Regions from separate parts of the Homo sapiens genome. Here regions 2 and 3 are each linked to region 1. Evidence: fine-mapped expression QTL. A gene starts in region 1. Each other region holds a variant in brackets. All regions are shown on one strand. Distances are from middle to middle. Region 1 holds the start of VAMP4 (vesicle associated membrane protein 4). Region 2 overlaps VAMP4 (vesicle associated membrane protein 4). Region 3 has its middle 45 kb from the start of VAMP4.

The links. PIP is the estimated chance that this variant, and not a neighbour inherited with it, causes the effect.
Region 2: its variant is the best candidate, but not a certain one, in a credible set for the expression of VAMP4 in skeletal muscle (GTEx, PIP 0.67).
Region 3: its variant is the best candidate, but not a certain one, in a credible set for the expression of VAMP4 in prefrontal cortex (CommonMind, PIP 0.74).

The regions. Positions count from the first base shown.
Region 1 is chr1:171,739,983-171,744,229 of GRCh38, reverse strand. VAMP4 (vesicle associated membrane protein 4) reads left to right here and starts at 2,165. Exons shown (of 8, transcript NM_003762.5): 1 at 2,165-2,320.
Region 2 is chr1:171,703,260-171,707,506 of GRCh38, reverse strand. It overlaps VAMP4 (vesicle associated membrane protein 4), which reads left to right. Exons shown (of 8, transcript NM_003762.5): 7 at 1,089-1,140; 8 at 2,973-4,247. The coding sequence ends at 3,001. Among named protein-coding and RNA genes, the nearest start is that of VAMP4, 37 kb to the left of the region's middle. The variant G/A (reference allele first, on the strand shown) is at 2,032.
Region 3 is chr1:171,695,323-171,699,569 of GRCh38, reverse strand. No RefSeq gene overlaps it. Among named protein-coding and RNA genes, the nearest start is that of VAMP4, 45 kb to the left of the region's middle. The variant T/G (reference allele first, on the strand shown) is at 2,063.

The sequences.
Region 1 (4,247 bases):
CTAGCTAGGAGGACAGCAGGCCCTCTTAAGGATGAAGGTGTCATGTTGAAAAAGGGGAAAAGAAAATTAGAGGACTAACATCTGAATAACTGAAGCTCACTAAAAAGAAAATGGAGGAAATAAGTAACTCAAGTTGCTTGGAGTTCTGACTCTAAGCTCAGTGCTATTATAATCTTTTAGGCTTACTGGTATATTTGATTCATGTTAACTGTAAAATGACATTTTCTAAGTTTCACAAATATTGGGGTTAGTCAAAGGGACTTTGTTCAGGTGATTAAGGGTGGGGCTTGCATTACCCCTCTCCTAAGCGATCATTCCAAAATGACTGGCAGGACTAAAGAATTATGTTTAAAAAACAAAAAAACCCAAAGAATGGATTATCTGTAAAAGCTATGCAATGACGTGCCTGTTAGAGCTCACTGACCACACCTTAAGTTGTCTAAGAGATGAGGCTATAACTAGCTAAACTCTAATTGGCTAAGGCACCAAAGCCAGAAAATAGCCCATAACATGCAAATATACAGACATAAAATCAACTGTAAGTGCTGGGCACAGCTGCTCATGCCTGTAATCCCAGCTACTTGGGAGGCAGAGGCAGGAAGATCACTTTAGCTCAGGAGTTCAGAGCTGCTGTGCGCTATGATTGTGTCACTGCACTCCAGCCTGGGGGAAGAAGTGAGACTTCATCTCAAAAAAAAAAAAAAGATCAGCTGTAGAAGAAAAAATAATGTCAGGGTTACCTGTGGAGTCTGGGGGTAGACCCACTATCACACCTAGACAGGGATACAAACCATGAGAGGCTTCTCTTCTAAGTGGGCCGTTTCAGTCCAAGTTGCTGACTTGGACAGCAACTTGGACTGAATAAACACAGGCAACTGAGTTTAGCATTAAGCTTTCAGAACCTTCAACTGACAACTCAACGGCTGTTTCTAAATCTCAGAACATTTAAATCAGAATCTAGGTAGCACGTGGGCACCTACGTAGTTTTAAAAGCTTTCCAAGTGATTCAACTCCAAGTGAATCAGAGTGGAGCATCGTTGCCTTAGTCATGGCATCTTTCAAATTCGTTAGTACATTTTTACATAAAAATAAACATCAAACAAAAGAAGAACAACTTTTTGGTAAGAGGGTGTCTATTCTTTCCTTTCCTTTAGTGTCCGCAGATCTTTCCTCCTGCTGTTTTCTTGTCTACTCTTGTTCTTGAACACCCCCTCTTATTTTTATGTCTTTAGAAAGTGCCTGGCACAGTATTTCAGACAGTTAAAATACTGTATCAACAAAGGACCCATAGATACTGTATTAATTTTAAAAGATGTGTAGTGAATATGATTCAATGAGTAAAATAATCCAGCTGGGGCGTGGGAGGAACGGATAATAAAACAAATAAGAGAACGGAAAAACAAAATTAGGAATTGTTTCTGGTAGACAGCTACTGCGGGCGTGGAGATCTAAACATGATACCAAATTGGGCGGAGGGGGAGGGAGTGAGGAAGGAATGGGCAGAGTGGCGGAATGGCCTGGCGAGGGCGATTTCCTGAAGGCTTTCAGGTTACAACTAAGGGATACCGGGAAAAGAACACCGAGCCCTCGTCCCGTATCTATCTAAACTAGCCGTGTTAACTTTAAGTCAATCTCCTCTCTGAACCAGATATTCCTCCTATCTAAAGGGAGGAGCCTGGCCTTAACATCTCTTTCCAAGTCTAGCTCTAATTCTGTAAACAGGGGATCAAACAGATCTCCTTTCTTCAGAAAAGGCCCCAGACGAACCCGAAGCAGGTCCTCGAGCTGCGAGCCACTCTCCACTTGCCACTCAACGTAGTCAGCCAGAGGGACGGATGTGCCACCAAGCACCACCTTCTTTCTAACGCCTCATCACCCCAGCCACGCACTCCGGCGCGGCGCCCAGTCCCGAGCGGTTCTCGGAAGTTTCCCACTCCTCCCCTAATCGCCCTCCACGCACGCCGGATCACGACCGGAACGTGGACAACCAGTGGTTGTTCCTCCCCTAAAGCACAGCATAAATTTGGAGAGATGCATCTAAACTGCGTGTGGGTTCGGGCTCTTTTAGGTGAATAGGGCTCGGCGGATCGACTTCCTCGATTATCTCCGTGCCCTGGACCCGCCCCCTCCGCCTGGCGCCAGGCCGCCGAGCGCCGATCGGCTCGATGAGCGGAGGCGCTGCTGCGGCGCTGCGGCCGACGCCGGGTCCGCACCAACTGTCTCCCCCTCCCAGCTTCTTACCTCGGCTTCCTACTCCTTCCCCCGCCCGCCCAGCACCGCCAGCCCGGGAGAGCTGCCGGGAGTTCCCCGGGAGCCTCAGGTACTGGCGCTGGCCTGTTCGCAGCGGGAGGGGCTGGTGTGAGGAGGAAGGAAACGAAGAAGACGCCCCTGCCTTGCCGCCCCCCGACGTCCTAGTCGGGCTGGTCGGCGGGCCTCGGGGATCTAGGAAGGGACCCCGGAGTGGGAAAAGGTTGGGGCCGGGGGTGCCGTGAGGAAGGAAGACGAGGACAGGGGTATGCGGACGAGGAGCAGTTGAGGGAGAGAAGAATTGGAATTGAGGGGTACTCTGGGGTGATGGGAAGAGAACAGTACCATGGATGGGGAAGGTTTGTTAAGAGTGGGATGTAGTGAGGAATTCCAGGGGGTACAATGGGGCAGGAAGGGCCAGCGTTAGGAGCAGATATATCGTGGGACGTGGCCTGGTGTGACAGATTGGGTGTGGGGGGTGAACGGAGCTGCCTGAAATTGTGTATTTAAAGGGCCCGGGGGAAAGAGCGCCAACCCTGCTGTGTTTATAATGACCGGAAGGTGGGGGTGAATCGTTACACTTGACAGGTTTTGCAAATAATATCTCCGGTCTGTGTCCATCCAAGTCACTTTATTTCTGTGAAACTGCATCAAGCAAGAAGGCTGATGACAGACAAGGAAGACGAATCAGAAAGAGAATGGAGGCTGGGAAAAGGAGAGCCTTTGCCCAGATTCAAAGCTATTGACTAGATAACGTACTACTTACAAAAACGCACACATAGACATTTAAGTATATGCTGATGTATAAGAAGCATACGGTGATGTGACTCATTTGAGTGAATTGTATAGTGGTGGTCTATCCTCAATGTGGAAGTACATGATGGCTCTCTTATTTACATGTATACCTAGTCACAAACAGCTGAATTCACATGTCTTTTTTTGTAGGAGAAATCTTAGGCAGACTATATCCTAGTCTACTTTCTGAGCATGATTTATTTCTACTAGTTGTTTGATACACATATCAGTTACTAATAATCAGTTGCAAATAACATCAAAGTTCATCAAGGTAGCTAATTAATCTGCCTACTGCTTTGCTGATGGGCTATTTGTTGCACATGGTTTCTTGGGATTAAGAGACCTGAATATGGTGTTTGCTCATCCTTAAGATTGTAGTTTTACTGTATGTCTTATAAAGGCATTATATAAGTCTGCCCGTTGTTTGCTTTGGGATGTTGAGGCAGCCTCATTGCAGGGGTTAAAATCTAAATACAGATAATAGTTAAAAGCACAAGTTCTTCAGTAATTTGCCTTGTCATCTGTTTTTCCATGCATTCTGTTACATTTCTGCATGAATGAAGTATTCTGACATCAAAGTATGAGGAATAAAAGGGCCAGATGTATGTGACAGAAATATTGTGGAACCAAGAACTCAAGAGCTGTTACTCAGGCAGCAAGAATTTGGTTTTTGTTACAAGTGAATAATTTCTGATTTGGAAGCATTTCTTATCAAAGAAAAGTGTGTCCTTTGGTTTTGACAAGCAGCTGACTTAAAACATTACTTTTATTTGGTTCGTGAAGCCAGATCCTGGGATTATTCTTTTTTAAGTGTATATCATTAACAAACAAACTGATGTCTAACTATACCTAATTTAAAGGTCTAAGTGTTTCTTCTTATGGAAAAGGAAGCAGGACTATTGGGTTGTTAGCAGGAAGTGAGTCTTTCTAGAACAGAATTCTGTAAACCTGATGGGCAACTAATTGAACAAATGATTAAAACTGATAATGCACAGCCATTGATTAATTTAGGCCTGTATCTCTGCTGTTTCAATGAATGTAGTGACTAACGTTATCGTTACTAAACTTTAGTTTTCTCCTAGTTTCTTGGTGCCTACTTTAAAGAAGCATCATAAAGAGTAAAAGAAAATGCATGTGTATCACTGAGCACCGTGCCTAGCACATAGTAAAACATTCAGTATTTCTGAGCTATCCTGAATTGATGG
Region 2 (4,247 bases), 37 kb after region 1:
AGAAAAAGGATATAAGGGCAGAACGCAGATCAGGAGTTGCCAGTGGCTAAGGGGGATGTCGTGCAGTTGGAGACTCACAACAGGTCATGAGGAAACTTGTTAAGGGTGTTGGTGGAAATGTCCTATATTTGATTGTGGTCATGTTTATTAACAGCTGGATATATTTGTCAAAACCTATCAAAAGTATTTTAAGAGGATAAGTTTTATTCTTTGTAAAGTGTATCTCAATATACCTGGCTTTAAAAATAAATGAGTTAATAAAATTATCCATAGGTGGGGAAAGAGAATCGCTAACACCTCTCTTAATATATCTGGGGGCTGTGAAACTCTTATATGTTTAATGACAAACAGATTTTTGTTCATGTTATTTGGAATAAGAGAGCTTTGGACTTGCATGAATACAATACTGCCATTTGGAGCTGTAAACATTTTCTGCCCAGTGTTAGAAACCCAAGGAAGAAAACTCTATTCATTGAGGTGTTTTAAAATTGATATTGATGTTTTCATTCAAATCTTCTTAAGTAAAGCCAAACACACGTTTAACAGGGCAAATTAATGTACATTTCAGGTAAAGTTGAAAAACTACCGTAGAAATTCCAAATTGTTTTAGAAATGCTTCAGATTAATAAAAAAGGCTTAAAGTACTTTATCATATAAACTGAACCTCTATGATTTGATGGGCTTATTACTAATGTGAGACCAGAGAAAATGTACAGTATTTTAGCAACTCTGTTCAAGTGTCAAGATATGATGAATAACATAGGCCATGCAATTCAAATGGTTCAATACATCGAAGGTAGCAGTTTATAGCACTTTTTTTCAAAGTATATGAGAATTCTGTTAGTTTTTTCTCCCCTTACTTTCTTCTTTGCATTTTTATCTCCATTTTGAGGAATATATTTTAGATTCTTTATGAATAGCCTCATGTAATAAGCAACTTTGCCTAAGAGCATTCTGTGTCAGTTTTGTAGTTAAGAAACCTTAAGGTGATGAGATGATTTAGTATGATGCAGTAAATAGAACAACAAATAGTCTTGACTTTATTAACAAGTCAAATATTAATATATATGCCCTTTTGTGTGTTGTAGATAAAAGCCATCATGGCTTTGGTTGCTGCTATCCTTTTGCTAGTGATTATCAGTAAGTATTTATTGGATTATTACTTCCTAGGGTATCATTTATTTTGGAGTTCATTTTAATTCCCTTTTATTTTCAGTTGACCTAGTATGTCTGAAGTCAGGATTGAATAATGACTTCTGACCTGTCTCAGGAGCTCTTAGAATCTATTGATCTCTGAAAATGCTCTTAAGTAATATGTAAAATTTTATGTGAATATGTATATGTACATTTTTATGGAGAGAGGGTCTATATCTTTTGTCAGATTCTCAAAGGGAACTCCTGTTCTGCCCCCAACCCTCACCCCCAAATCCAGGGCTAAGTGATTTGTTCAAGGCCAAATCTGGTTCCTATTACACTAAGGTCTAAAATACTCATTTTCTATTTATTATTAACTCTCAGGAATGGCAGTTTGCATTTTGTAATATTGTTTTGGAAGTATAAATCCAAATACGTTCTCCAGATGATTTTTTTTTGTTTGGTTTTTGTTTTGTTCTGTAGTTGAGCATAATTTCCATCATTAAAGCATGACTCCTTCCCGTCCTTTTTCCCTTAATGTTCTTTTAAAAATCAGATCATTTTAAATATCTCTTTTTCTTCAAGGCCTCTGCCTATGTTTACAGAGAGGTTTTATGACGCTTTGGAAAGTATCTAAAAATAATCATTTGAAAAATTATATTATGCTGTTATATTTTTAAACAGAAAAAAATGTTTTGTTACAAAGAAATACAGTCAGTCCTCATTATTCATAGATTCCGTGTTTGCAAATCCAGTTACCAGGTAAAATTTATTTGTAACCCCAAAATCAGTACTCATGGTGCTTTCACAGTCATTTACAGACATTTTCAGAGTAACAAAAAATTGTAAGTCCCCCAACCCACACATCCCTAGCTGAGGTTAAACAAAGCCATTTCT[G/A]CCTTTTTATTTCAGCACTCATAACATAAACATTCTTTTTGTAGTCTATTTAGTACCACATTTTCTGCATTGTTGTGCTTTTTGTTGGTGATTTCACTGTTTAAAATGGTCCCCACACGTGGTGCTGAAGTGCTGTCTAGTGTTGCTCAGTACAAGAGAGCTGTGATGTGTCTTCATGGAAAAAATACACATTAGGCAAACTTTTGTTCAGGCATGAATTATAGTGCTGTTGGCCTTGAGCACAGTGTTACTGAATCAATAATACATATTAAATAAAGTGTCTTTAAACAGAAACACATATAAACCAAGGTTATGCATTGATTGACAAAAATGTAGTAGCCAGAGACTCACAGGAACTTAACCCTATATTTTCCCTAGAAGCAGTGGTTCCATATTCACTAATTTAGTGTTTGTAGTGACCTTATAGAAAATAATTACCTCAGAAACCAAGAATCAATCATGTATATATAGTGAGCAATTGGAAAATGTGAAATATTAATAACAAAAAGAAGAAAAATTCAACTATAATCTTACAATTAGTAGAGATAGCTACTAATATAACTATTATATATACTTCTCTTTTCCTATTAATATACAAGCATGTTTTTTAAAAAACTAAGACTATATTATATGTACTTTCTAATAAATATATTGTGACTATTATCCCAGGTTATCAAAATTTTTAGTAATATTTTAACAGCAGATACAAGCTATGGCTATGCCATTATTTATTTAAGATGCCAATGTTAGACATTTAGGTTGTTTTATGATATTTTTTGCTTCTCCTTTCCCATTGATTATTTATTACCTCAGATAAAAGTTCAGTCAATCCTCATTACCCATTTCTAAAAGTAGACACAACTACATTTAGGAATATTGCTTCAAACATAGCATATATATCTGATGTTGATATATTGCTTTTTTCATGTTTTCTCTTACAGTTCTTATAGTCATGAAATACCGTACTTGATTTGATGACAGAGATCTTCATTAAACAAGATCTGGGACAGTAATAAAAGATTGCTGCATAATTTAAATGAAACCTATGTGTATATAACTTTCAAAACTTCTTTTTCAAGAAACTAAGAGGCAAGTATCACTTCAAATTGGAACGTTGAGAATGTCCAATTATCTTCTCCCTTTCTAACAAAATGTTCTTTTAATAATTATGTTTAAGGCAAAGAGAACTAGCCTCTATTTTTCCATATTTCAAGGATCTAATTTGAAACTAGATACTTGCCAGTTCATTATTTGTGTATATAAACACTGATTATAATATTTCATATTAATATTTTAATGGCATAAGGACTTGCATTATTGCATTAGGGAGCGGGTCATGCTGGGGGTCAGGAAGCCTGTGTAGAGTACCAAATTATATGCTGAAAGAGATGCATAACCATTCTGTCAATATTTGCAGAAATATAGTTCCTTTCATATTACAGTTGTTTTGCAAGCAATTTCCACATTTATAGGTGTAACAAAAGCTAAATGTTGTAAATGTTGTTGCCCTCAGGTATAACTAAAAACATTCCAGTAAATATATTTTTGACTGTGTAAGAGAATGTGTAGTAATTTTTTTGGCATTGGATTATGGAAATGGAAATTTTTAAACAGTGTGAAAAAACATGGTATGGCATCATAAAACTGGAGATAATAAAGTTATTGAAGAGTGTCATTGGAGTATTTGAAAATGACCAATATATAGCTGCCAGTCATGGTCCAGTCTGTTTTCTGTTAAACTCCAATAAAGAGAGACCAGTCAGTCCTAATGTGAGTAAATGAAATTTACAGGTAACTTACTTACTCCTTAATTTTATTTTAGTTAATAGCCTCTAACTTCCAACTATCTCATTTACCAAAAGTACAAAAAGTAGCAAAACCATCTATTAATACTTTGAATTTTATATCTTTGCATTTCCTGTTCATCCTTGAGGAGATGTATGTTGCACAATCAAATTTTGCATCAGCCAACAGTAATGAGTAGTAGAAAGTCAGGAACCTATGTGTATATATATATATATATATATATATATATATATATATATATATACACACAAACACACACACACACACACACACACACGCACACATATGATAATCAGTCAGTCGGTAACCAAATGCTAGAGAGTGACCATTAACCTAAGCCTGTTTTTATAATGAAAAAATGTGTTAACTTTAAAATATGCCAACCTCCTTGTGTCTTTTAAACAAGTCAG
Region 3 (4,247 bases), 45 kb after region 1:
TAGACGGGGTCTTACTGTGTTACCCAGACTGGTCTCAAATTCCTAGACTCATGCTATCCTGCCTCAGCGTCCCAAAGTGCTACGATTACAGGTGTGAACCACCATACCAGGCCTTTATTGTCTTAATACTACAAAAAGCCATGGGAGGGGAGATGACATTGGAGGCACGTTGTACCCTGAGATAGTCTTCACAAATAAAGTGCTGTTGTTAGAAATGGAGACAGGAAGCAACCTGGTAAGGGCACTCTGAGAATGATGGTGTTTAATACAATCCACCATTCAACAGATGAGAGAACCGGGCAGGAAGATCAGATACTACCTAAATCCAACAGAGTCATACTTAGTGTGTGCCCATCGAACACTAAAAACTGCTGTGGAGCAGTGACTATCAGCCTGCTTTTCAGCTGTCAGTGTAAGAAGGGATTCTGACTAGTAAGCAAAGTTACAGCTGAGCAGTCAGTGATAGTGCACTTACCCTATTTATTGAGTAATTGGGCCAGATCTCATCTGAGGATGTCTAAAAAGATGCACATGGACCTATGAGTAACATTGTAAAAACACAGAAAAGAGAACATCCTCCTGATCATTCCCAGCAACATACTAACTCTGTCTTCCTTAAAAAAACTCCATGTCATTTCTCCACTCCCCCCCGCCAAATTCCACTATATACATGTGTATGTGTATATATATATATAAAATATATGTATATATGTGTGTATATATATAAAATATATGTAAATATGTATATATATAAAATATATGTAAATATGTATATATATAAAATATATGTATATGTGTATATAAAATATATGTATATATATGCGTATATCTATATACACACACATCTACACATCCATCTTTTTTTTTTTTTTTTTTTAGAGGCAAGGTCTTGCTCCGTCATGTAAGCTGGAGTGCAGTGGCACAATCATAGCCCACTGAAGCCTTGAACTCCCAAGCCATCCTCCTGCCTCAGCCTCCCGAGTAGATGGGATTACAGGCATGAGCCAACATGACCAGCCCTCATTGCTATACATTTTTGATAATTGTCCTCTTCCTGACATATACTTTCCTGTGGCAGAATTTAGAGAGGCAGAATAGTATATGAGTTGTATAGTAGAAATAACATGGATGTGCCGGGCACGGTGGCTCACGTCTGTAATCCCAGCACTTTGGGAGGCCAAGGTGGGCGGATCACAAGGTCAGGAGATTGAGACCATCCTGGCTAACGCAGTGAAACCCCATCTCTACTAAAAATACAAAAAATTAGCCGGGCGTGGTGGCAGGCGCCTGTAGTCCCAGCTACTCTGGAGGCTGAGGCAGGAGAATGGTGTAACCCGGGAGGTGGAGCTTGCAGTGAGCTGAGATTGCGCCACTGCACTCCAGCATGGGTGACAGCAAGACTTCGCCTCAAAAAAAAAAAAAAAAAAAAAAAAAAAAAGAACATGGGTGCTGAAATCATGGGCTCTGGGTTTTTGTTTGTTTTTAGAGACGGGTTCTCACTATGTTGCCCAGGCTGGTCTTGAACTCCTGGGCTCAAGTGGTCCTCCCACCTTGGCCTCCCAAAGTGCTGGGATTACAGGAGTAAACTACCATGCCTGGCTGCAGAGGATTTTTTGTTTTGTTTTTGAGACAGGGTCTCACTCTGTCACCCAAGCTGGAGTACAGTGGCACAATCATAGCTCACTGCAGCCTTGAACTCCTGGGCTCAAGCAATCCTCCTGTCTCCTGTCTCAGTCTCACTTGTAGCTAGGATTACAAGTGCATGCCACCACGCCTGGCTCCACTCCGTATCTTTACTCCTCTTTATAGTAATAGTCCTTGACAGATTTCACTATACTTGCTATTTCCATTTTTTTTTTTTATTCTCCTCAACACTTTAGTCAAGATTTTGCCTCCATACTCCACCAGCCTTACTCTTGGGAGGTGCCCAGTGACCTATGTATTGCTAAATCCAGTGGTCCATTGTCAGTCCTGATCTCTGTGCAACAGCAGCATTTGATGCAGTTGATTACTCTCTTCTCCTTCATACATGCTTCCAGGGCTTTGTTTCTTCTTACCCTTA[T/G]GGTTGTTCCTCCTGTTCTCCTCAACTCTTAATATTGGAGTATCCAGGATTCAGCTCTTGGTCCAGTGTTTACACACATTCTCTTAGAAATCTTACCTAATCTTGTCATTTGAAATCACATCTTTGTGCTGACAAATCTCAAGTTGTTGTCTCCCACTTGACTTCCCTTGAATTTGGAGTCATCTGGTACTCTTTTTGACGTCTTCATTATTTCAAGTTGAGCATGTCCCAAACGCATTCCAGTCTGCTTTCACAGACCTCCTCCACATGCATTCTGTCCCATCTCAGTTGATGGCAACTGAATCCTTCCAATTAGGCCAAAAACTGTAGAGTCATACTGACTCCATAACTTCTCTCTCAACTCACCTCTAATTCATCAGGAAATACTCTGGTGCTACCTTTAAGATATCTTTAGAATCTGACCAGTTCACACTGCCTCCATCGTGACCACCTGGTCCTCTCCTACCATCATCTCTTACCTGGAATACTGCAGTAGCTTTCTAACTGGTCTCAGGCTTCTACCATTCCCCCTCTTCCCAGAGTCTGTTCTCAACAGAATAGTGAAAAATTCTTTCAAAATGTAATCAGATCATGCCATTGCTTTGCTGAAAACTCTTCAGTGGCTTCCCATCTTCCTTGGAGTGAAAGCCAAAATTCTTTCCGTGGCCTACAGGGTCTCGTGATGCATCCCCAAGTCACCTTGCTGACCTCTGCCCTTGTCTTTGCCTTCCTTGCTGTGCTGCAGCCACACCAGCCTCTTTGCTGTTCCTCAGACACACCAGGTGTGCTCCTGCCATAGGCCTTGGACTTGCTGTTTCTCCTGCCAGAAAAGCCCTTCCTCCTCCTCAACCACTGTATGAAAGTCATTCTCTTGAATGACTTTCTCAAAATCTCCCCGAGTACACCATCCAATCCCTTTACCCTCTGTTTTTCCAGAGCATTCTAACATTCCAGAATTTTCTCTGATATATCCCAAACCACTCACTACAACAGCAATTGTCACAGTGAGTGCTCACATAATTACTGAATGTATTAATTATGTTGAAGATGTGAAGGAAGATGGTAGTTTTGAAAATGATGTACCAGGAGGGAGGAGCCAAGATGGCCGAATAGGAACAGCTCCAGTCTATAGCTCCCAGTGTGAGCGACGCAGAAGACGGGTGATTTCTGCATTTCCATCTGAGGTACCGGGTTCATCTCACTAGGGAGTGCCAGACAATGGGTGCAGGTCAGTGGGTGCGCGCACCGTGCACGAGCCGAAGCAGGGCGAGGCATTGCCTCACTTGGGAAGCGCAAGGGGTCAGGGAGTTCCCTTTCCTAGTCAAAGAAACGGGTGACAGATGGCACCTGGAAAATCGGGTCATCCCACCCGAATACTGTGCTTTTCCGACGGGCTTAAAAAATGGGGCACCAGGAGATTATATCCCGCACATGGCTCGGAGGGTCCTATGCCCACGGAGTCTCACTGATTGCTAGCACAGCAGTCTGAGATCAAACTGCAAGGCGGCAGCGAGGCTGGGGGAGGGGCGCCTGCCATTGCCCAGGCTGGCTTAGGTAAACAAAGCAGCCGGGAAGCTCGAACTGGGTGGAGCCCACCACAGCTCAAGGAGGCCTGCCTGCCTCTGTAGGCTCCACCTCTGGGGGCAGGGCACAGACAAACAAAAAGCAGTAACCTCTGCAGACTTAAATGTCCCTGTCTGACAGCTTTGAAGAGAGCAGTGGTTCTCCCGGTACGCAGCTGGAGATCTGAGAAAGGGCAGACTGCCTCCTCAAGTGGGTCCCTGACCCCTGACCCCCGAGCAGCCTAACTGGGAGGCACCCCCCAGCAGGGGCAGACTGACACCTCACACGGCCGGGTACTCCAACAGACCTGCAGCTGAGGGTCCTGTCTGTTAGAAGGAAAACTAATAAACAGAAAGGACATCCACACCAAAAACCCAACTGTACATCACCATCATCAAAGACCAAAAGTAGATAAAACCACAAAGATGGGGAAAAAACAGAGCAGAAAAACTGGAAACTCTTAAAAAGCAGAGCGCCTCTCCTCCTCCAAAGGAATGCAGTTCCTCACCAGCAAAGGAACAAAGCTGGATGGAGAATGACTTTGACGAGCTGAGAGAAGAAGGCTTCAGACGATCAAATTACTCTGAGCTACGGGAGGAAATTCAAACCAAAGGCAAATAAG